Linked DNA regions of Homo sapiens: regions 2, 3 and 4 are each linked to region 1. The links come from fine-mapping of genetic effects on gene expression. A gene starts in region 1. Each other region holds a variant in brackets. All regions are shown on one strand. Distances are from middle to middle.

What was found.
Region 2: its variant is fine-mapped to the expression of OGG1 in skeletal muscle (GTEx, PIP above 0.99).
Region 3: its variant is fine-mapped to the expression of OGG1 in whole blood (TOPMed, PIP above 0.99).
Region 4: its variant is fine-mapped to the expression of OGG1 in whole blood (TOPMed, PIP above 0.99).

What each region holds. Positions count from the first base shown.
Region 1 is chr3:9,747,317-9,752,693 of GRCh38, forward strand. OGG1 (8-oxoguanine DNA glycosylase) reads left to right here and starts at 2,636. Exons shown (of 7, transcript NM_002542.6): 1 at 2,636-3,107; 2 at 3,629-3,876; 3 at 4,454-4,633. The coding sequence starts at 2,971. BRPF1 (bromodomain and PHD finger containing 1) reads left to right here. Exons shown (of 14, transcript NM_001003694.2): 14 at 1-699. The coding sequence ends at 33. RefSeq lists enhancers at 2,210-2,259, 2,290-2,409.
Region 2 is chr3:9,658,081-9,663,457 of GRCh38, forward strand. It overlaps MTMR14 (myotubularin related protein 14), which reads left to right. Exons shown (of 19, transcript NM_001077525.3): 3 at 4,187-4,295. Among named protein-coding and RNA genes, the nearest start is that of MTMR14, 11 kb to the left of the region's middle. The variant C/T (reference allele first, on the strand shown) is at 2,456.
Region 3 is chr3:9,777,059-9,782,435 of GRCh38, forward strand. It overlaps TADA3 (transcriptional adaptor 3), which reads right to left. Exons shown (of 9, transcript NM_006354.5): 9 at 2,909-3,491. The coding sequence ends at 3,299. It also overlaps a transcript of OGG1 not described here. Among named protein-coding and RNA genes, the nearest start is that of CAMK1, 9.8 kb to the left of the region's middle. RefSeq lists an enhancer at 1,087-1,381. The variant G/A (reference allele first, on the strand shown) is at 3,022.
Region 4 is chr3:9,824,397-9,829,773 of GRCh38, forward strand. It overlaps ARPC4-TTLL3 (ARPC4-TTLL3 readthrough), which reads left to right. Exons shown (of 12, transcript NM_001198793.1): 9 at 1,404-1,552; 10 at 2,601-2,844; 11 at 4,564-4,999. It overlaps TTLL3 (tubulin tyrosine ligase like 3), which reads left to right. Exons shown (of 14, transcript NM_001387446.1): 9 at 1,404-1,552; 10 at 2,601-2,844; 11 at 4,564-4,999. Among named protein-coding and RNA genes, the nearest start is that of TTLL3, 17 kb to the left of the region's middle. RefSeq lists silencers at 142-362, 2,923-2,992, 3,003-3,072 and enhancers at 954-1,454, 1,455-1,955, 2,789-3,289. The variant C/T (reference allele first, on the strand shown) is at 3,001.

The DNA.
Region 1 (5,377 bases):
GAGCAGAGCAGTGAGACCAGCGATAGTGATTGATACTGCTCAACACAGCCCAACCTATAGTGCCCTGTGACTTCTCTCCTCCCCTTTGCTCACTGTCCTGGAGTGGCACCGGCCTCTGCACTGACTCATTTCTGGTCTTGGGGCCAGTCTCAGGGGAAGCTGGGTGGGGGAGGTCCCTCCTGCCCTAAGTGCAGCTGGACTGTACAGAACACTCCAAGGGCCAATGGCAGTTCAGCGCAAGGAGAGGGAGGGCCCACAGGTCAGAAAAAGCTCCAGAGACCTCACAGCATTGTAGGGCGGGGTGGTGGGCCAAAGTTAGGACACTGCGTAAAACAGGCCATCCCACCACCTCTACCTGCTCATGCCAGGAGAATCCATAACTGCCTAGAGGCCTGGGGCCCCTACCGGTCGTGAGGTGAGTGGGCATCTGTCCAGCCTGGAAGAGGGGCACTAGGTGACTCCCTCCCCTGCTGTTGTAAATACTGTAATTATCGGAGAATTTAAATTATTCTCATTTGTAACTGCGTTTCCGGGTCGCGCCAGAGTCATTTGGTACTAAAAAAAAAAAAAAAAAAGACTGGGGGCTGTCCCCATTTCCCTTCTCTTTCCCATAGATTCCCCCACCTTTCAAACTGGTTTGTATTTATTTCAAAGGAAGAAAATATATTGATTCTTAGAAAATAAACTGTCAATTTAGAATTCTTTGTTCTTGCCCCCTGCCAGGGCAAAGGGGATACAAAGGGAGGTTCTGTGCCCCAGGGATGATACATAATTGGGCCCAAGTGGTTGCTGACTGCTGTGCATGCTACATTTCATAAGACACAGCAAAGAGAGCCCCTGTTGCCCATGCATGGAGTGAGTGGCAGGCCCTGTGTTGAGCACCTTTAGACATTCAGCTTTGCGTAATCCTTGCAATAACTATAGGGTAGTTTAATAATAGACTGGTTATCTCCACAAAGATGCTGAAGTTTCAAAAAATTATCTTGCCTAAGTTCCTACAACTAGGAAGGTGCAGAGCTAGAATTGGAACCCAGGTCTGTTTGCAAACCTGGCTCTTCAACCAGTATGCTGAACTGCCAGGGGAAGAGTCAACTATCGATTCCTACTTGGCCCTTAGAGGCCTCAAGTCCTTTGCCAGTGGCATGGCCCAAGTGTTTCAGCATCAATACAGCTGAGACCTTCCCCACTGCTTAACCGGAGACAGAGCTGGGATGGAGACGGTTGCTCTTTGCTCACCCCCAACCTCAGCACCTTCTTTCCAGACTCCACCGACATTTATTGAAGGAATGCCTTCCAAGTGCTAGGCGCCTGTGGGATGGCATGCCTACAGATAGGAACAGTCACAGGAAGAAGGGGCGGCCCAGGCCTTGCAGCCACTGAGGACTGGCACTGAGACAATGATGGCACTGGTCTGATGTTGATTCCATGCTGACGGTACACTCCGCTAGGTCTCTGGCTGGGACACAAGGGTCAATCCGCTGCAGATGTTGCTCTTCAAGAATTTGCAGTCTGGGCGGGGTGCGGTGGCTCACGCCTGTAATCCCAACACTTTAAGAGGCCGAGGCGGCTGGATCACGAGGTCAAGAGATCGAGACCATGCTAGCCAACATGGTGAAACCCCATCTCTACTAAAAATACAAAAATTAGCTGGGCGTGGTGGCGCGCACCTGTAGTCCCAGCTACTCGGGAGGCTGAGGCAGGAGAATCGCTTGAACCCGGGAGGCGGAGCTTGCAGTGAGCCGAGATCGCGCCATCACACTCCAGCCTAGGCGACAGAGTGAGACTCCGTCTCAAAGAAAAAAAACTTGCAGCCTGATAGTTAAGATACAGCAACCCCAAATCCCTATGCTAAAAGGTGAGAATGGCCCAGATAAAGGTCATGTCTCCTAGCTCCCTGCTTTTTCATGCCATCCTCCAGAAGGGAAGAAATTAAATAATCCATCCTCCTACTCCAGGCGACTAGAAGGCAGGCTGCCTCAGGGCCACACACTGGGACTTGGACTCAACCTGATGGGCTTCTGGGCCCAGCCCCAGACAAACCCCCGGCAAACGTCCCATTCCGAGGAAAGCATGAGCAGATGGAGTATGGAAGAAATGCCCAAGACGGCAGGCAGCAGCTGTGGCGGCCGGCGGGACGACAATCCGAGGAGAGGCCTCTGATGTCCTGAGGTCTCAGAGGACGCCTAAAGGCCTTGAATGGGACAAGCTTAGCGGGCGGGCGCAGAAGAGAATAATACTCTGGAGACACTTCCCGAGGGCTCTGGGGCCGGAGCTGTGTTCGCTCCGGTTCTTGGTGAAGACAGGGTTCGTGGGAGGCGGCCCAAGGAGGGCGAACGCCTAAGACTGCAAAGGCTCGGGGGAGAACGGCTCTCGGAGAACGGGCTGGGGAAGGACGTGGCTCTGAAGACGGACAGCCCTGAGGAACCGCGGGGCGCCCAGATGGAACTCGTTAGCGCCCCGAGTGCAGACAATCCCGGAGGGGGAAAGGCGAGCAGCTGGCAGAGAGCCCAGTGCCGGCCAACCGCGCGAGCGCCTCAGAACGGCCCGCCCACCCTGATTTCTCATTGGCGCCTCCTACCTCCTCCTCGGATTGGCTACCTCTAGGTGAAATGAGCGGTGGTTGAGCCCTACTTCCGGTGGTGCTGTGGTCTGCCCCTGGAGAACCCAGAAGAACACAGCTGTGCGCGCCCACAGGCTCTGGGGGCGGGAGAAGATAAGTCGCAAGGAGGGGGCGGGACCTACACCTCAGGAAAGCCGGAGAATTGGGGCACGAAGCGGGGCTTTGATGACCCGCAAAGGGCGAGGCATGCAGGAGGTGGAGGAATTAAGTGAAACAGGGAAGGTTGTTAAACAGCACCGTGTGGGCGAGGCCTTAAGGGTCGTGGTCCTTGTCTGGGCGGGGTCTTTGGGCGTCGACGAGGCCTGGTTCTGGGTAGGCGGGGCTACTACGGGGCGGTGCCTGCTGTGGAAATGCCTGCCCGCGCGCTTCTGCCCAGGCGCATGGGGCATCGTACTCTAGCCTCCACTCCTGCCCTGTGGGCCTCCATCCCGTGCCCTCGCTCTGAGCTGCGCCTGGACCTGGTTCTGCCTTCTGGACAATCTTTCCGGTGAGTGACTGAGCCTGAGAAGCCTGTCCCCTCGGACTGGCTCCTGCCGCCTCAACACTGCCTGGCATGGGGTACAAAGGAATTTGGGGGATGATGGAAGAAACCCGGGGTACAAAAGAGGAAACAAGCACGGGTAGCCAACCTGTTACCTTTAATATGTCTGTACAGTGATAATTGTAAGGATCCAGCGGTATAACCGATGCAGAAGATAATAGCACTTGTTTTTCTTTTTTTGAGACAGGGTCTCGCTCTGTTGCCCAGGTAGGAATGCAGAGAGGCCCATTCCAGCCTCGACCCCCCGGGCGCAGCCTCCCGAGTAGCTGGGACTACAGGTGTGCGCCATGCCCGGTTAAATTTTTGTATTTTTTGTAGAGGTGAGGTTTCGCCATGTTGCTCAGACTGGAAGATAGCACTGTTACTTGTATTAGTTTCGTACATGGAGCTATTGTAGGATAGGAGGGACCCCAAAGGGTGCAAGAAAGGAAATTGAGTGCCAGGGTTGTCATGTGCCTTGGGCTCAGGTGGAGGGAGCAAAGTCCTGCACACTGGAGTGGTGTACTAGCGGATCAAGTATGGACACTGACTCAGACTGAGGAGCAGCTCCACTGCACTGTGTACCGAGGAGACAAGAGCCAGGCTAGCAGGCCCACACCAGACGAGCTGGAGGCCGTGCGCAAGTACTTCCAGCTAGATGTTACCCTGGCTCAACTGTATCACCACTGGGGTTCCGTGGACTCCCACTTCCAAGAGGTGGCTCAGAAATTCCAAGGTGAGTACAGGACCTGGGCTGGGGTTAGGGTTCTTGGACATAAGTCACTTCTCTATGACTCAGTTTTGCCACCTGTAAAATGGGGATTATATCTACTTCATAGGCTTTTATGAGGATTTAAGGAACTAATACATGTAAAGTGCTTAGAATAATGCCAGGCACATAGTAAGTATTATTACCATTATTATTATCCTGCTAATCACCATAGTGAAGTGACAAGGATTTTGAGCCCATTCCTGGTTGTGTGACCTAGGGCAAGTGATTTCATTCATTCTGTAAATATATACAAAGCATCTGCTGTGTGACCGGGGATACACCAGTGAACAAAACAGACCCAAATGCCAGTCCTCATGGAGCTTACATTGTGGCCTCTTTATCTGTGGAATGGGATGGTAACTCAGCCCTCACAAGATGCTATGAGGAATGAGAGGTCTGGTGTTGCTTTCTCTAACGGTGCTGACTCTCATTCTCCTGGGATCCTCCTGGAGTTTTGGTACCTAGGATCTGACCTGTGGGTGGGAAGAGGCCACACCCAACAGCAGGTACCTCTCCTACCCCCTGCATTTCTGGTCTCCAGGTGTGCGACTGCTGCGACAAGACCCCATCGAATGCCTTTTCTCTTTTATCTGTTCCTCCAACAACAACATCGCCCGCATCACTGGCATGGTGGAGCGGCTGTGCCAGGCTTTTGGACCTCGGCTCATCCAGCTTGATGATGTCACCTACCATGGCTTCCCCAGCCTGCAGGCCCTGGCTGGTGAGTAGGTGGGTCCCCTGCCCCCAGGCCTTCCATCAGCTTTCAAGATCTGTTCATTTCTCCCCTGGTTACCTTCTCAAGGCTTCCTGCCTTCCCAAACACTTCCCCTATCCAGAACCGCCCTGCCTGGTCTGATCAACTCCAGTTACTCATCCTCCCTATGCATCCCTAAAATGTCAGCACCTCACTGGTCTGTGCTTTTTGCCCAATGGGTTCAATGCCTAATCAGAAAAATATCTGTATACAATGTACAGTAGTTTGGGGTTAAGAGCATGCATTCTGGGGACAGACCCATGCCTGGTTCTGAACCCCAACTCTCACTTGGGCACATTATTTAGCATCTCTGTACTAAAGTTTCTTCATCTGTGAAGTAGAATAATAATAGCACCTACCTATGCTATTATTGGAGTTGTCATGAGGGTTGAAGAAAGGAATATACATACTGCACCTAGCACAGTGTTTGGCACACAGGAAGTATATGTAAAATTCAAGCTGGTATCAGCCAGGCGCAGTGGCTCACACCTGGCTAACACAGTGAAACCCCGTCTCCAGCCTGGGCAACAGAGCGAGACTCTGTCTCAAAAAAAAAAAAAAAAAAAAAAATTCAAGCTGGTATCATTGTAGTGAATGGGATAGTTTTGTATCTAAGAACACGTGTGTTCTTCACAGTAGCCCTGTAAGGCAAATGTTTTACAGAGGCAAGTGTATCGATTGGCAGATGTGAGAACCAAGCTAGGACAAGTG
Region 2 (5,377 bases), 89 kb before region 1:
TTACTTTTCACTCCTTGCAAGGCCTTAAAGTGTTACTGAAGTGATGTTGAGTGGGTGATGCCTGCTTGTTGAAAGGGGGGACTTCGGGTATGTTTGGGTGGGAAGAAATAGCATTTTTTGCTTTTTTACTGTCTGGCTTGGCTGTTACTATGATGCTGAATTAAACTGAATAGACTGAATAAAAAATAGACTGAATTAAACAGGGTAGAATTGGATTTAAGCAATGTTTTGGTCCTGTTAAGGAACCTCTCCAATTTGGTTCATCATCTGGGAATAGAAGCCTGGACAGGGATCTCTGAATAGCTAAGACATGTTTGTCAACAGTGTTCGTTCAGCTGCTGCTGTGTAGTAGACCTCAGGGATCAAGTTGGAAGCCAGATAGATGAAGTCCTTACCAGTAGGTCTAGTGGGAAACAGAGTCCAATAAAGAAGCAATAATTGTTAATAAAAGCTGGAATTAGGGGAAGTACAGGTGAGGCCCTGCCGGATAGTGGTTAAAACCATGGGCCCAGTGGCTACCCACAGGGTTTAGAATCTCAGCTACCCTGTTTACCTGTTCTGTGACTTTGGGCTAGAGATTTCATCTCATTAAACTACCTCATCTGTAAAATTGGGTAAGTGAGGACTGAGTGAGATAATGTGGGTGTAAGCTCTACTTTGTGCCTCTTATCTATTAAATAGTAGCAGCAGTAACATTTATCTCAGGAAGTTGTGGGGTACATTATAGGAACAAGCCACCCAGTTTGGTAAGTGTGGTGCCTGTCTGGGAAAGCTTCCTATTGGAAATATGTGATAACAGCATTTTCTTCTGTATTTGAAAATAGTTTGGCTGGGCATGGTGGCTCACGCCTATAATCCTAGTTACTTGGGAGGCCGAGATGGGCGTTTCGCTTGAACCCAGGAGTTTGAGACTGAATTAAACTGAATAGACTGAATAAAAAACAGACTGAATTAAACAGTCTGGGCAACATGGTGACACCTTGTCACTACAAAAAATACAAAGCATTAGCCAAGCATCGTGGCATGTGCCTGTAGTCCCAGCTACCTGGGAGTCTGAGGTGGGAGGATCACCTGAGCCCAGGAGGTCAGCTGCAGTGAACCATGGCGCCACTGCACTGCAGCCTGGGCAACAGAGGAAGACCTTGTTGGGAAAAAAACAACAAAATCTCACTACCTGGTAACATCTTGCCAGAAATTTCAGTGCATACATTACAAATGTAAATACAGAAGCCTACATTCATCCCTTCGAATGTGAGTATTATGTGCCAGACACAGCTCAGTGCTTAGCACTGCAATAAAAGAATCCTAAGGACAAGAGATAATAAAAACAGGAAAAAGTGAGAGAACAGAAACTGAATTGGTTCTTTTTTTTTTTTTTTTTAAGACGGAGTCTCATTCTGTTGCCCAGGCTGGAGTGCAGTGGCGTGATCTCTGCTCACCGCAACCTCCGCCTCCTGGGTTCAAGCAATTCTCCTGCCTCAGCCTCCCGAGTAGCTGGGATTAGAGGCGCGTGCTGCCACGCCTGTCTAATTTTTGTAGTTTTAGTATAGACGGGGTTTCACCATGTTGGCCAGGCTGGTCTTTACCTCCTGACCTCAGGTGATCTGCCGCCTGAGCCTCCCCAAGTGTGGGATTACAGGCATGAGCCACTGTGCCTGGCCAGAAACTGAATTGGAGCTTGATGTAGGGGAACCGGTAAAGGAACCACTGGCCGACCTAACAAGAAAAGGTGGGTCATTACATTAAAAGATCCTCCCTAGAGGAAAATGCTGATGTGTCCTCCACCAGGGGTGTTTTGTTTGTTTGTTTTTAACAGAAGTTTAGCCTGAGAAATCCACCTTGGTTTTGAGGCTACAACTCAACCTGGGAAAATCAGATGTAGGCATTTAGGGTTCAGAGGGCTGGTATGAGCTAAGTGAGAGTCGGTTGCAGCAGATGGTGCTGACCAGATATGTGACATCGGCCACGGGCCAAGTAAGTGGGAGGAAGGCCACTGTGGCAGTACTAAAGGTGCTCGGTTTTATATTCTTGTGGAGTCTAGTTAGGCAATTAATTGGTACCAAGGTGCCTTTTGATTTCATAGAGAAACTGGGTGAGGGGAAGGCAGCACACTCTGGTTCTCTGTGAGCTTGTGTGCCTAGGGCTGCCTGGTGGGTTGCTGCCACCCTACGGGCACTTTGCTTTTTTTTTTTTCCCCCAGACGGAGTCTCGCCCTTCGCCCAGGCTGGAGTGCAATGGCGTGATGTTGGCTCACTGCAAACTCTGCCTCCCGGGTTCAAGCAGTTCTCCTGCCTCAGCCTCCTGAGTAGCTGGGATTACAGGCACGCGCCACCACGCCAGGCTAATTTTTTTGTATTTTTAGTAGAGATGGGGTTTCACCATGTTGGCCAGGCTGGTTTTGAACTCCCAACCTCAAGTGATCTGCCCACCTTGGCCTCCCAAAGTGCTAGGATTA[C/T]AGGTGTGAGCCACCACGCCTGGCCCCTAGATATATTTTAACTAAGAATTCGCAGTATTTTAAAGACTGTGTTTTTATTAACCCTAACAGCATCCAGATACATTTAAAGAGGTACCACAAGTATGTGGGAGTCACTGATTTCTTCCTTCTGGGATAATATTTGGGTGCATGTGTACAAGAGGAGCTGTACGCAGATTCCTAGAAGGATTAGGATGTGGAAGCAATTAAATTCCCTCTAGGAGTTGGTCTGAAAGCTCAACACTTTTAAGGAAGGAACATGAGTATTTTTCCTTCCTTCTACTTGGTTACTCTGTGTAGCTGGGAAAGCTTCCTGCTCTAACTTTCCTGCCTCCTGTTTCTGTTGCTACCAGAAGCTCTGACTGGCTGGGGTGAGCTTTGCTAAAGGTTGGTAGGTGAGTTTATGAGAGCGGACCCTTATTTTAGGGAAGCGTGATTTGATATGGGTATGACTTGCTGGAGCTAACTTCTAAACCTCACTCTCAAGTTCTAGAAGCTCACTTACCAAGCCCAGTGCATTAACTACTACACGTCCCTGTGTCACACATGGCTTCTCTTATGCCTCCTTTGCTCTGTGCGCTGTTGGCCATATGGACTGTGAAAGCAGAGGCCTAGAGCCATGTGGACCAAGAAACGTCATCTCATTCTGCCCTCTAAAACAGCACTCCCCAACCTTTTTGGCACCAGGGACTGGTTTCATGGAAAACAATTTTTCCACGGCAGGGTGGAGAAAATGGTTTCAGATGAAACTGTTCCACCTCAGATCATGAGGCATTAGATTCTCTGCAACCCCAGTCCCTCACATGCGGAGTTCACAATAGGGTTCGAGCTCCTATGAGAATATAATGCCGCCACTGATGATCTGACAGGAGGTGGAAGTCAGACGGTAATGCTCACTTGCCTGCTGCTCACCTCCTGGTTCCTAATGGGGCATGGACTCGTACTGATCTGGGGCTCAGGGCCTGGGGACTGCTTGCTCTAAAAGATCACAAAAATACATATTCAGAGTTATGCAAAAAATAGATAGTCACAAAAATGGTCCTGTGATTTCCAGAGAGGGTCCCTAGGGCACCAGGTCTTATCCTGGGAGTTAAAAATTGGACACCCTAGACATAATATCCAGTTTTCTGTGTATATTTCTGAATTTTGTATATGTCTTCAGTTTAGCTCACTTTTTTTTTATCTTAAAGGTTCAGAAATCAGAGTGATTTAAGTTTTAATACCTATAATTAGCACTTTTTTTTTTTCCTGAAAAACTTAATATATCTCATGCCTGTGATCCCGGCACTTTGGGAGGCCGAGGTGGGCGGATCGCCTGAGGTCAGGAGTTTGAGGCCAGCCTGGCCAACGTGGTGAAACCCCGTCTCTACCAAAAATAAAAAAATTACCCAGGTGTGGTGGCTCACACCTGTAGTCACAGCATACTCGGGAGGCTGAGACAGGAGAATTGCTTGAACCCGGGAGGCAGAGGCTGTGGTGAGCCAAGATTGCGCCACTGCACTCTAGCCTGGGCAACAACAGTGAAACTCCGTCTCAAAAAAATAGATAGATAGACAGACAGATGATAGATGATATAAAATTTAGGAATGACATTTAATTTCAAGCAAGCATTATGTACACAGATCTAGTATGGGGGTCTGTGTGAATAAACACATATACACAAAGTGCCCACTTCAAAGTCAGCTTGACCTGCTTCTCTTGCCTGTGTGTTAGGTTTGAGAGTACCGTACAGGTGAGCAAGTTGCAAGACCTCATCCACCGCAGCAAGATGGCCCGGTGCAGAGGACGGTTTGTCTGCCCAGTAATCCTGTTCAAGGGCAAGGTAAGGCCCATACCATAGCTTCATGCTCCACGACTCTCTTCTGGGGTAGCTGACTTACTGCAAAGTATAGGGTCTTTTTTTCCCTCAACATTAGTAGCCAAGCATTGGGTGGTTACTGGGTGTTGTGGGAAGCAGTCCAGAGAAACAGACCAATTCTGACTGAAGGATGGTTCTAGGTAGAGAAGGGATGGTCACACCAGCATACCCCACCCCGTGTTCCAGAGCCAGACTGCCTAGGTTCAGATCCTGACTCTTATTTCCTGCCTATGCAGAGCCTCCTTTTCCTCTCCTATAAATTAAGAATAATAATCACCTATTTCAAAGGTTTGTGGATTAGATTAAATCAAATGAGTTCCTATATTGTTTTTCCATTCTTTCAATTATATAATTCACCAAGTATTTATTGTATATTATGTGCCAGACACTGCTTCAGGCCTTAAAATACATCACCATGTAAAGCAGACAAAAATCTTTATTGTCATGGAGCTTATATTCTAAGGACTTTTGTTAATTTAATTTGGCTCCCCAGTTTGGTTTCATTTTTATCTATCTTTTGGTGTACGGGATGTGCCCATTTCATTGCAGATGAAACAGAGGCTGAGAGTGACTAAGTAACTTCCCTAAGTAGAGGGTACACATCAGGGCAGAGGATGGAGGGGATTGAATGAAGACGGCTGAACGCTGAGCAGGGAGGTGGCTCTGTGTTTGCTAGGAGAGCCATTGTGACGTTTGAGCGGGGAAATTCCGAATGCAAGTAGCAACGGTGCGAAAATTGGTCCAAGAAGAGTGGACTGACATACAGAGAGCCTCAGAGGGGAAGGGAGCGGAATTCAGTCTATTCATTCCTTTAGCTGGTATCTGAGTGTCTCAGTGGTCAAGGGCAGGGCAATGGGGAGAGTCTGACTGTTGTCTCAGTCCCTGGTGTGCCTTTTTTGTAAATTGGGAAAGAGGAGGAAGGAAGGGAGACTCTGCCAAAAGCTTTCTTCTTCAGATCAGTTTTAGGGAAAAGTATGTATGGAAGTTAGGTCCTAGAAATTGATCTTCTTAAAGCTGTTGCCACTTTGGAAAGTTTTCATGTTCCC
Region 3 (5,377 bases), 30 kb after region 1:
CACTTGGTGCCCAGAGTACTCAGGAGCAGACAGGGGCTGGGGACCCACTGTGGGTCAGAGCTCACCCTCCCCGTTCTCACTCACCCTGGTGTTGCTGAAAGTCAGCTGTAAGGCATTTGGAACTCTGGGGAGACCATGATGTGCAAGACAGATGCTTTCTAGGGCCAAGACACAAAAGGCTTTGCCTCCAAACTAGTGATAAGGAATCAGAATTGTTTTGAATTAAATTTGGAGACTTGAGGTACTGGAACTAATCCGCCCTCCTCATGACAACCCAGCTTCCTCCACACTCATAAAGGAGGCATCTTTTGGCTCCAGCAGACACTGATATGATTGTAAGAACTCTGCCAGGGATGGTGCTACCTGGGGGCAGCAACTATTCCTGCATCAAGGCTGCATGGCCTCAGCAAGGCACAGCATCTCTTTGAGTCTCTGTGTCATCTGCAGGCTGGAATATTACTCTCCTTGGAGGTGCATGGTAAGCATCAGATAGGAGGGGTGGGTAAAGGGCCTGGCACAGTGCCAGGCAGATAGTAGGTATGCAACAGAGAACAGCTAGAGTGCTCATGACTGATCCTTGAAAGTTAAGTTTCTTCTCTGGTGAACCAGGCCCAGTCGGTCTTCTAGGGTTCTTCTTTCTATTTATATCTGTCTTCCTTCTTTCACAATTCCATCCAATTTTGGGATGTCAGCTCTCATCCCACCTCCTCCACAAAACTGTCTCTGTTCTTGGAACTCTCTACCAACAACGCCCACCATACTTATGGTGTGGCCCAGTGAACATGGAAGTGAGTGGTTAAGAGGAGGGGGGTCTTCAAGCAGAGCTGCCATATATGGCTGCACAGGTTGGGCACTGCCCAAGTATAGGGAGTACCATTCACATACACTGTAATGGGAGTGGGGCCCCAGTGAGTTGTAATGAAGAGGCTCTCTCTGTAAGCCAAATGGCCTGAGTTTGAATGTTGGCTCAACCACTCAATTGCTTGACAAAGCAAGGTATGTAACCTCCTAAGCCTCAGTTTCCTCATCTGTAAATGGGATGTTATTATGGGGTAGCTGATACCTACCCCATAATATTAGGTAGTTGAATGAGTTCAGAACAATGCCTGGTGCATACTAACATTTACTGAGCCCTTCATTGCATTATCATTATGATTAGAGTTGGTTTCTCATCATTGCATGTGTGGGTGTCTTTTCTCTCTGAGAAGGCTGTGAGCAACCTGGGGACAATGAGTCACTGAGAAATTGCAGCAGCTTGGCCCAGCACCTAGTGGGAGGCAGGGCCTCATGCTGTCCTCTCTCTCAGGATCCTACTTCATCTTTCTTTTTGCCAAAATTCACTTGTAATAGGCCTTTTTTAGTTACAAATCACAAAACTCTAAAGCAAACTAGTTTAAGCCAAAAGAAGCCTTTGTGGGCTGATATATGTGGGAAGTCTAAGGGAGGATCCGGTGGCTTCAAGAATAGCTGGATGCAGCACTTCTCCATCTCCTGGCTCTGCTTTTCTGAGCTGGCTTTATTCTCAAGCAGGTTTTTCCCCATGGGAGGAGAGCAGGTCACTGGGGTAGACTGAGTTTATAGTCTATGGCTTATGGTCCAACAAGAAGTGGAACTCTCCTCTCAGCATCCACAGAGCAATCTTATGGAGGGCCTCGAGTGACCCAGCTTGGGTTACATGCCTGCTTCTGGGACTAATCATTGTGGCTAGAGGGATTGGCACTTGACTGGCCAAGCTGGGGTCATGTGTGCACCCTAGTTTGGCAGTTGGACAAGAACCATGTGTGATGGGGAAGGAACATTTCTCCAACAGAGAGGTGCTGGGTATACGAGAATGTTGGCCATGTTCGCCCTCCTTCTTTATGGCTCAGTTCATAGGTCACTTCCTTAGGGAATCTTACCCTCCCTTCTCTCCTGCGTGGACCTCAACCTTCCCACAGTAAATTGCAAATTATTCCCTGATTCTCTCAGACCAGTCTGGGAACAACTTGAGGCAGGTACCAGAGCATATTTATTCATCTGTGTCCCTTAGGCCAAGCTTCCTGCCCCAGCTGTGGAAGAGACGTTGTCGGTGGTCTATCTAGCACTCACTTCCCTGTTTCCTACTCAGATCTTGTTGGGTTTTACTCTCTCTCCACCACCTTGATGGAGTAGCAAACTCCACTCTGACTGGCATAAAGCCATTACAGTCTCCTTTGCCACAGTGACTGAGGAATGGGCATGTGAGACTGAGTTTGGGCCACTGAAACATGATGGTATCTGGGAAAAGGCTTCTTGCTTCTGTAGATGGGCCATGGAAGCCCGCTGGCTCCGGCTCCCTCCTGTGCTGGATGTAAATGAGGAAGCATCTGGCCCCAACTGCTCCACTGCCACACTACAGCCAGAGAAGGACTCACCTTAGGCAGAGGTCGACACTGTGGAGGGCAGTGTGGTGACCCCTAAGAAACCTGGACCCTTGGGGGAGGGGGGAGGGAAAGCATTAGGAGATATACCTAATGTAAATGACGAGTTAATGGGTGCAGCACACCAACATGGCACATGTATACATATGTAACAAACCTGCACGTTGTACACATGTACCCTAGAACTTAAATTAAAAAAAAAAGAAACCTGGACCCTTGATGACCCTGAAGAATTGCTAGATTGGCTAACCGTGAAGGCCACTCTGTCCCAGGACTGCCCATCCTGCAGCCAACACATTTCCTTACTGTGAATCCACTTTGAGCTGGGGGGGCATTGTTACGTGCAGCCACAAGTATCCTCAGAAAGAGGTACTCAGAAAGTTCTCCCTGACTGAATGCCATGGGTTAGTGGCCATGGGCTGAGAGCCACCAAGCATACCCCCCACAAACCTTACCACCCACACTGGTTCCTTCCTCCCCACTGTAACAGACATTCAAAGACTGGATGCTTTTTTTGAAAAACCACAGCAGTCACTTTATTCTTAAGTTTGCACTTTACAAAACCACAAGGGAGAAGTCCTTGAAGGGGAGACAGGGGTAGGGGATTAGGGAGTGGGGGATG[G/A]TAAAGAGGGGAAGAGGAAGACCCAGAAACGAAGTCCCCTCCAACCCCATCTCGGGGACCAAGCAGAGACTAGGCCTCAGGCTAGCCCAGCAGGGCTTCCTGTGTCCTGGTTGTACAGAGCTAGGCCAAAAGACCTCAGGGGAAGGGCCACGGCCCTCTAGAGACTGCCGCCATTTGAGGGACAGCCACAGGCCAATGTTTCCTGTGCCCAAAGAAGGAAGTGGGCCTCCCTTCCCCTCCCCTAGGCCAGATAATCAGCCTGAGGCAGGGGTGAGGGCTACCCATCCAGCAGCTTCAGGATGCTCTCACGCTCCTTCAGAGTCTTCCAGGCCTGGTCCTTTTCTTTCTTGGTGGGAGTCCGCTTCTTCTGCCGGGCAGCCATGATCTTGCGAAAGGCGTCCATGACCTCGTTGTCAGCCATGCGCACCCGCTGCCTCAGCTCCTGCCGGCTCACCTCCTCCTTTGCCAGCCTGTGGGGACCAGCCAGCCAGGTGCCAGGGTCAGCCCACCTCCAGAGAACAACCCCTCCCTCTTCAAGACCGAGCCTACCCACCAGCCCAGGCTGGCATGCCTGTGGATTGTGTCATACAGTCGTGACCAAAAAGCAGTTACTGACCTACACTTACATGGCACTATCTTAAGCTCCTGAAAAATATTAACTCATGTTGATCACGGGGGAGGCTGTGCACATGTGGGGACAGGGAGATACGGGAATTCTCTGTACCTTTCTCTCAATTTTGTTGTGAACTTAAAACTGCTCTAGAAGAATAAAGTCTTGGCTGCACATGGGGGTTCACATCTGCAGTCCCAGCACTTTGGGAGCCCAAGGCAGAAGGATCACTTGAGCCCAGGAGTTCGAGACCAGTCTGAGCAACATAGTGAGACTGTCTCTACAAAAAATTTAAAAAATTAGCTGGGTGTGGTAGTGCACACCTGTAGTCCCAACTCCAAGGGAGCTGAGGATTGCTTGAGGCCAGGAGTTCAAGGTTACAGTGAACTATGATCATGCCACTACACTCCAGTCTGGGCAACAGAGCGTGACTGTGTCTTCAAAAAAAAAAAGGTCTTAAAAATATACACAGTAGGCTGGGCAAAGTAGCTCATGCCTGTAATCCCAGCGCTTTGGGAGATGGAGGCAGGAAGATCACTTGAAGCCAGGAGTTGAGACCAACCTCGGCAACAGAGTAAGACCCTGTCTCTAAAATATATATATATATACATACACACACACAAACACACACACACAGGCACACCCACTCTCTCTCTCTGTCTTTCAGTTAATCCTAACAACCCTGCAAAATATGTACTATTATTCATATGTTACCCGTGAGGAAAATGAGGCTCAAAGATGATCCCAGGATCCCACAGTTAGTGAGGGGGAGATCTGGAGCAGGCTGGGGCCAAACTCTTGTTTTTAAACACTGTTGTTTCAGGTGTTCCGGTGCCAGCAGAAGGCCTGCTTACGTCGGCATCTGCATTCCAGAGCCCCCTAAGGTCTAGGCAGCCTGAGGCTGACAGGAGGTGGGTGAGACACCAGATCAATCTCTCTGAACAGGGTCTGATTTATACATTTCATCGATGGTGGAGCTGGAAGGTCACTTAGTGATTGAGTCCAGCCTGCCAGTTTTCCAGAAGGGGAAGGAGATGCTCAGGTCAGGGGCTGCTTAAGGCCTTGCAGCTGCTCTGCAGCAGGGTAAGGGCTGTGCTCTGGTTTCCTGAGAGCTGCAAGCCATTTCTTCATTGCCCATTACTTCTTTTTTTTTTTTTTTTTTTTTTTTTGAGACAGGTCTCACTCTGTCACCCAGGCTGGAGTACAGTGGCCTGATCAAGCTCACTGCAGCCTCTACCTCCCAGGATCAAGCAATCCTCCCACATCAGCCTCCTGAGTAGGACTATAGGCATGTGCCACCATGCCTAGCTGATTTTTAAAAATTTTTAGTAGAGAAGGGGGTCTGACTACATTGCCCAGGCTAGTTTCGAACTCCTGAGCTCAAACAAGCCTCCCACCTCAGTCTCCCAAAGTGCTGGGATTACAGGCATGAGCCACCAGGCCCAGCTAGGGCCCACTACTTCTGTAACTGCACATGCCTGCTTTTCTCTCTCTTCCTCTCTCTCCCTCTGCTTCCCTCAGTGCCTCTTCCATCTGTGTTTTCTTCTTCTCACCTTTCAGAGAAAACAAACTATTATAGAAAGAGGCTTTGATTCAACCACAGGTTCAAGTCTCAGCTTGCTGTTTATTGACTGTGTGACCTTCAGCAGAGCATTTCGCTTCACTGGGCCTTTATTTCCTCATCTGGTAAACAACGAAAATAGCTCCTCCCTCCTGGGTTGTTGTCAAGACACTTGAGAGAGTGTA
Region 4 (5,377 bases), 77 kb after region 1:
CTCAAAGCTTCAGTTTACTCTTTTTGTTTTTTGAGATGGAGCCTCGCTCCGTTGCCCACACTGGAGTGCAATGGCGCGATCTCGGCTCACTACAACCTCCGCCTCCTGGCTTGAAGTGATTCTCCTGCCTCAACCTCCTGAGTAGCTGGGATTACAGGTGCCCACCACCACACCCGGCTAATTTTTGTATTTTTAGGAGAGATGGGGTTTCACCATATTGGCCAGGATGGTCTCAATCTCTTAACCTTGTGATCCGCCCACCTTGCCCTCCCAAAGTGCTGGGATTACAAGCGTGAGCCACTATGCCCGTCCCAGTTTACTTTTTCTTTTCTTTTCTTTTCTTTTTTTTTTTTTTTTTTTTTGAGACGGAATCTTGCTCTGTCGCCCAGGCTGGAGTGCAGTGGTACGATCTCGGCTCACTGCAACCTCCGCCTCCCTGGTTCAAGTGATTGTCCTGCCTCAGTCTCCCAAGTAGCTGGGATTACAGGCACCTGCCACCATGCCTGGCTAATTTTTGTATTTTTAGTAGAAACAAGGTTTTGCCATGTTGGCCAGGCTGTTCTCGAACTCCTGACCTCAGGTGATCCGCCTGCCTCCGCCTCCCAAAGTGCTGGGATTACAGGCAGGAGCCACCGTGCCTGGCCCAGTTTACATTTCTCTAAAATGGGACCAGAGCTGGGTGTGGTAGCTCATGCCTGCAATCCCAGCATTTTGGGAGGCTGAACAGGAGGATGGCCTGAGGCCAGGAGTTCAAGACTAGCCTGGGTAACATAATAAGACCCATCTCTGCAAAAAATAAAAATTAGCTTGGGTGTGGTGGCGTATGCCTGTAATTCCAACTACTTGGGAGGCTGAAACTTGGACCTAGGAGTTCCTGGCTGCACTGAGCCGTGATTTCACCACTGCACTTCAGCCTGGGTGACAGACCAAGACCCTGTCTCAAAAAAAAAAAAAAAAAGTCGGGGGGTAGGGGGTGGGTACTAGTAATACTTCCCTGGCAGGGCCTTGAGGGCATTCGTGAAAATATATGGAAAGCCCTTGTCACAATGCCTGGCACATAGTGGTGCTTTATCATTAGGAACTGGAATGATTAAATTCTGTCAAAGACAGTTTTAATGTAATAGGAAGGGGGTGGCACAGGTGGAGTGTTGGAGTAGGGGGTGGTTTGCAGTTAATGGAATTTTATCAGCCTTTCCCATTTGTGTAGTCTGGGCAGGTTAGGATTTCCGGGGTGGCTTGAAGGTGGGGCCGGAGGCTTGGGAGGGACCTATGGATATCTGCAGGGAGGGCGTGACCAAGGCTGCCTGGATGACGGCGGGGGATGGTGGAATATATCTCCCCCTGCCCTCTCCACCTGCATGTCCCAGGTCCAGCCCTGCCCAAGTTCTATCATTTCCCCACAGCGAAGGGGCAGAACTCAGGCACCTCGACACTCAGGTCCAGCGCTGTGAGGACATCCTGCAGCAGCTGCAGGCCGTGGTACCCCAGATAGACATGGAAGGGGATCGCAACATCTGGATCGTGAAGCCAGGAGCCAAGTCCCGCGGACGAGGTGGGGGTCAGCTCCTGCTTCCTGCACTGGCACCTCACCACCTGCATCTACCAGTAGAGGCCAAGGAAGTTAATAGTGCAGGTCTATTGAAGCCAAATTGCCTGGGTTTGAGTCCTAGCTCTGCTACTAATGTGCTTCGTGACCTTGAGCAGGTTTTAGCGCCTCCCTGAACCTCAGTTCCCTCATCTGTGACATGAGGAGGATGATAATACCTCCTGTGAGGTGAGGATTAAATGCAGTCATGCAGCTAAAGCACTATTCCAAATCCTCAACGTGCTTCAATTTATGCAATCCTGGGAAACGGAGGCACGTGTAGGCTTTCACATGATCCAGAAGGATATCCATAAGGTCCTGGAAGCAGCAGTTGGCTGCCTCTAGACAAGGAGATACATTTTTTATTGTATGCCCTTTCGTACTGCCTAATTTTTGTTTTGTTTTATAGTCTATTTATTATTGGTAGGAACGTAATAGGTGCACATACTTTAAAAAAGCCCCCAACACTGGCCAGGTACAGTGGCTCATGCTTGTAATCCCAGCAGTCTGGGAGGCCGAGGCGGGTGGATCACTTGAGGTCAGGAGTTGGAGACCAGCCTGGCCAACATGGTGAAACCCTGTCTCTACTAAAAATACAAAAATTGGCCACGTGTGGTGGCAGGCACCCATAATCCCAGCTACTCGGGAGGCTGAGGCAGGAGAATCACTTGAACCCGGGAGGCGGAGGTTGCAGTGAGCTGAGCTCGTGCCACTGCACTCCAGCCTAGGTGACAGGGCTGTCTCAAAAAAAAAAAAAAAAAAAAAAAGTCCAGCACTTTAAATTTGTATCCATGTATGTATTCCTGTTTAATCAAACAAAACTGGTTAATTAGGAAAAATTTAAAATCCTTAGCAAATTCCTGGCTTTCCCAAAGGGAACTGGGTTCTGATTGAGGGAGACAGCCTTACCCACTCAGCCCTATCAGCTCCGAGGGGACAAGAGCTCATGACAAGCTGGCCCTTCTCCTGGCCCACGCCTGACCTTCCAATCCCTGACTGCCCTCTTCCCCCGTAGGCATCATGTGCATGGACCACCTGGAGGAGATGCTGAAGCTGGTGAACGGCAACCCCGTGGTGATGAAGGACGGCAAGTGGGTGGTGCAGAAGTATATTGAGCGGCCCCTCCTCATCTTTGGCACCAAGTTTGACCTCAGACAGTGGTTCCTGGTAACTGACTGGAACCCACTTACCGTGTGGTTCTACCGCGACAGCTATATCCGCTTTTCCACGCAGCCCTTCTCCCTGAAGAACCTGGACAAGTGAGCCCCTCTGCTCGCCTCCCACGAGCTCCCTGCCTAGTTGGGGAGCTGGCAAGCAAACAGGCGATTACAGTGCAGGGGACTCGCGCAGCAGCGCTAGGCTCCACACACAGACTGCAGGCAGGCAGGCCCTCATCCTGCCAGCTGTCCTTGCAT[C/T]CAACAGATTTTTTTTTAACAGACAGGGGGCGGTCTCACTCTGTTACCTAGGCTGGAGTGCAGTGGCATGGTCACGGCTCACTGTAGCCTTGACTTCCTGTGCTCAAGCAATCCTTCCTCCTCAGCCTCCCAAGTGTCTGAGACCACAGGCATGTACCACAGCTGATTTTTAAGTTTTTTAATGTAGACATGGGGTCTCACTATGTTGCCCAGGTTGGTCTCAAACTCCTGGGCTCAAGCGATCATCCCACCTTGGCTTCCCAAAGTGCTGGGATTACACTATGCCTGGCCCCTCCAACAGATTTGACCGAGTGTGTACCTTGTGCCATGCACTGTTCTGGGCACTTGGGGTATAGCAGTGAACAAAACAAGATCCCAGCTCTCAAGGGCTTACATTCTAGCAGGGAGAAACAGGCAAGCAAGAACACAAGTGAAATTATCTAACAGGTTAAAAGATTATTTGGGCCAGGCGCAGTGGCTCATGCCTGTAATCCAAGCACTTTGGGAGGCCGAGGTGGGTGGATCACCTGAGGTCAGGAGTTCGAGACCAGCCTGACCAATATAGCGAAACCCCGTCTCTACTAAAAATATAAAAATTAGCCGGGCGTGTTGGCGGGCGCCAGTAGTCCCAGCTACTCGGGAGGCCGTGACAGGAGAATTGCTTGAACCTGGGAGGTGGAGGTTGCAGTGAACTGAGATCGTGCCATTGCACTCCAGCCTGGGTGACAGATCAAGGATCTGTCTCAAAAAAAAAAAAAAAAAAAAAGATTATATTTGTCGTTGGGGGAAAAAGGGAAGCAAATGTAGAGCAGGGGAAAGGAGGTCAGGAGTTTTGAAAACTAAGATGTCGTGTTAACTTCTAGGGTGAGAGAAAGCCTTGTTAAAGCCTGAATTCCAATTCTGTCTCTGCAGCTTCCAAGTTGTTTGAATCTGGTCATGTGAAAACCTATTTAAGCCTTGGTTTCCACATCTGAAGAATGGAGGCAGTAGTATGAAATTCATAGCTATCAATTATTGAGTGCTTCATATGTGATAGTGCTGAGCACTTTGTATACATGATCTCATTCTTAATAAGAACCCAGTGCATACTTCTTGTTCACCAGGTCTGAAGAAAAATATAAAAAACAGTGAAGTGGGTACTGTTACTACCCCCATTTTGCAGATGTGAAGAGCACACAGGTTAGATGACTTCCCTAAGGTCTCACAACTAGTGTGGAGATGGCGCTTGAACACGTCCTGGCGATGACGGGGCCATACCCTTACCCACCCTCTTATCTTCCAGACACTGGGATGGTTAACTGAGACTATGCACAAAGCACTTACTACTGCGGCCCCCGTAACTAGCGCCCTCAGAGCAGCCCTGAGAGATAAGAGTGGTTCTGGCCCTAGAAGAATGTGGTGGGGCCCAGGCCTCTGTCCTTTTTGTCCTTCCCAGTAGGGCCCCATCTCAAGTTGAATAGTGCAGGGTGGCCCAGGGCTGCTTCCAGGACTTGCCTGTCCTCCCTGAGTTTGGATGGGAGAGACACAAGGGCCTGGACCTCAGTTTTCTGTTCTCTGCCCCAGCTCAGTGCACCTGTGCAACAACTCCATCCAGAAGCACCTGGAGAACTCATGCCATCGGCATCCACTGCTTCCGCCAGACAACATGTGGTCTAGCCAGAGGTTCCAGGCCCACCTGCAGGAGATGGGTGCCCCAAATGCTTGGTCCACCATCATCGTGCCTGGCATGAAGGATGCTGTGATCCACGCACTTCAGACCTCCCAGGACACCGTGCAGTGTCGGAAGGCCAGCTTTGAGCTCTATGGCGCTGACTTCGTGTTCGGGGAGGACTTCCAGCCCTGGCTGATTGAGATCAACGCCAGCCCCACGATGGCACCCTCCACAGCAGTCACTGCCCGGCTCTGTGCTGGCGTGCAAGCTGACACCCTGCGCGTGGTCATTGACCGGATGCTGGACCGCAACTGTGACACAGGAGCCTTTGAGCTCATCTATAAGCAGGTGAGGAGGTTGGGCCCAGGCAGGACCCCAGAGAGTCTGCACCCTCTTCCAGGCAGCCCTGCAGTGGAGCATAGGACTCTGCAGTCAGACCCAGTTTAAGACCCAGATTCAAGTCCTGGTCCTGCTAAGGTGACCTCACTTCCTTGAGCCTCAGTTTCCTGATCTTTGAAATGGGGATATTATTACCATCTTTCTCATGGGAATGGGAGAATAAAATGAATTCATGTATGAGGATAATATTTCTAGAGAGGCATATAGCATAGCCATAAGAGCAGAGATTCTGGAATCTCCTTGGGTTCAAATTCCTGTTCAGTGACAACAAGCTATGTGACTTTGGACAAGTTCCTAACCCCTAGGTCTCCTTGTCCGTAAGAATAA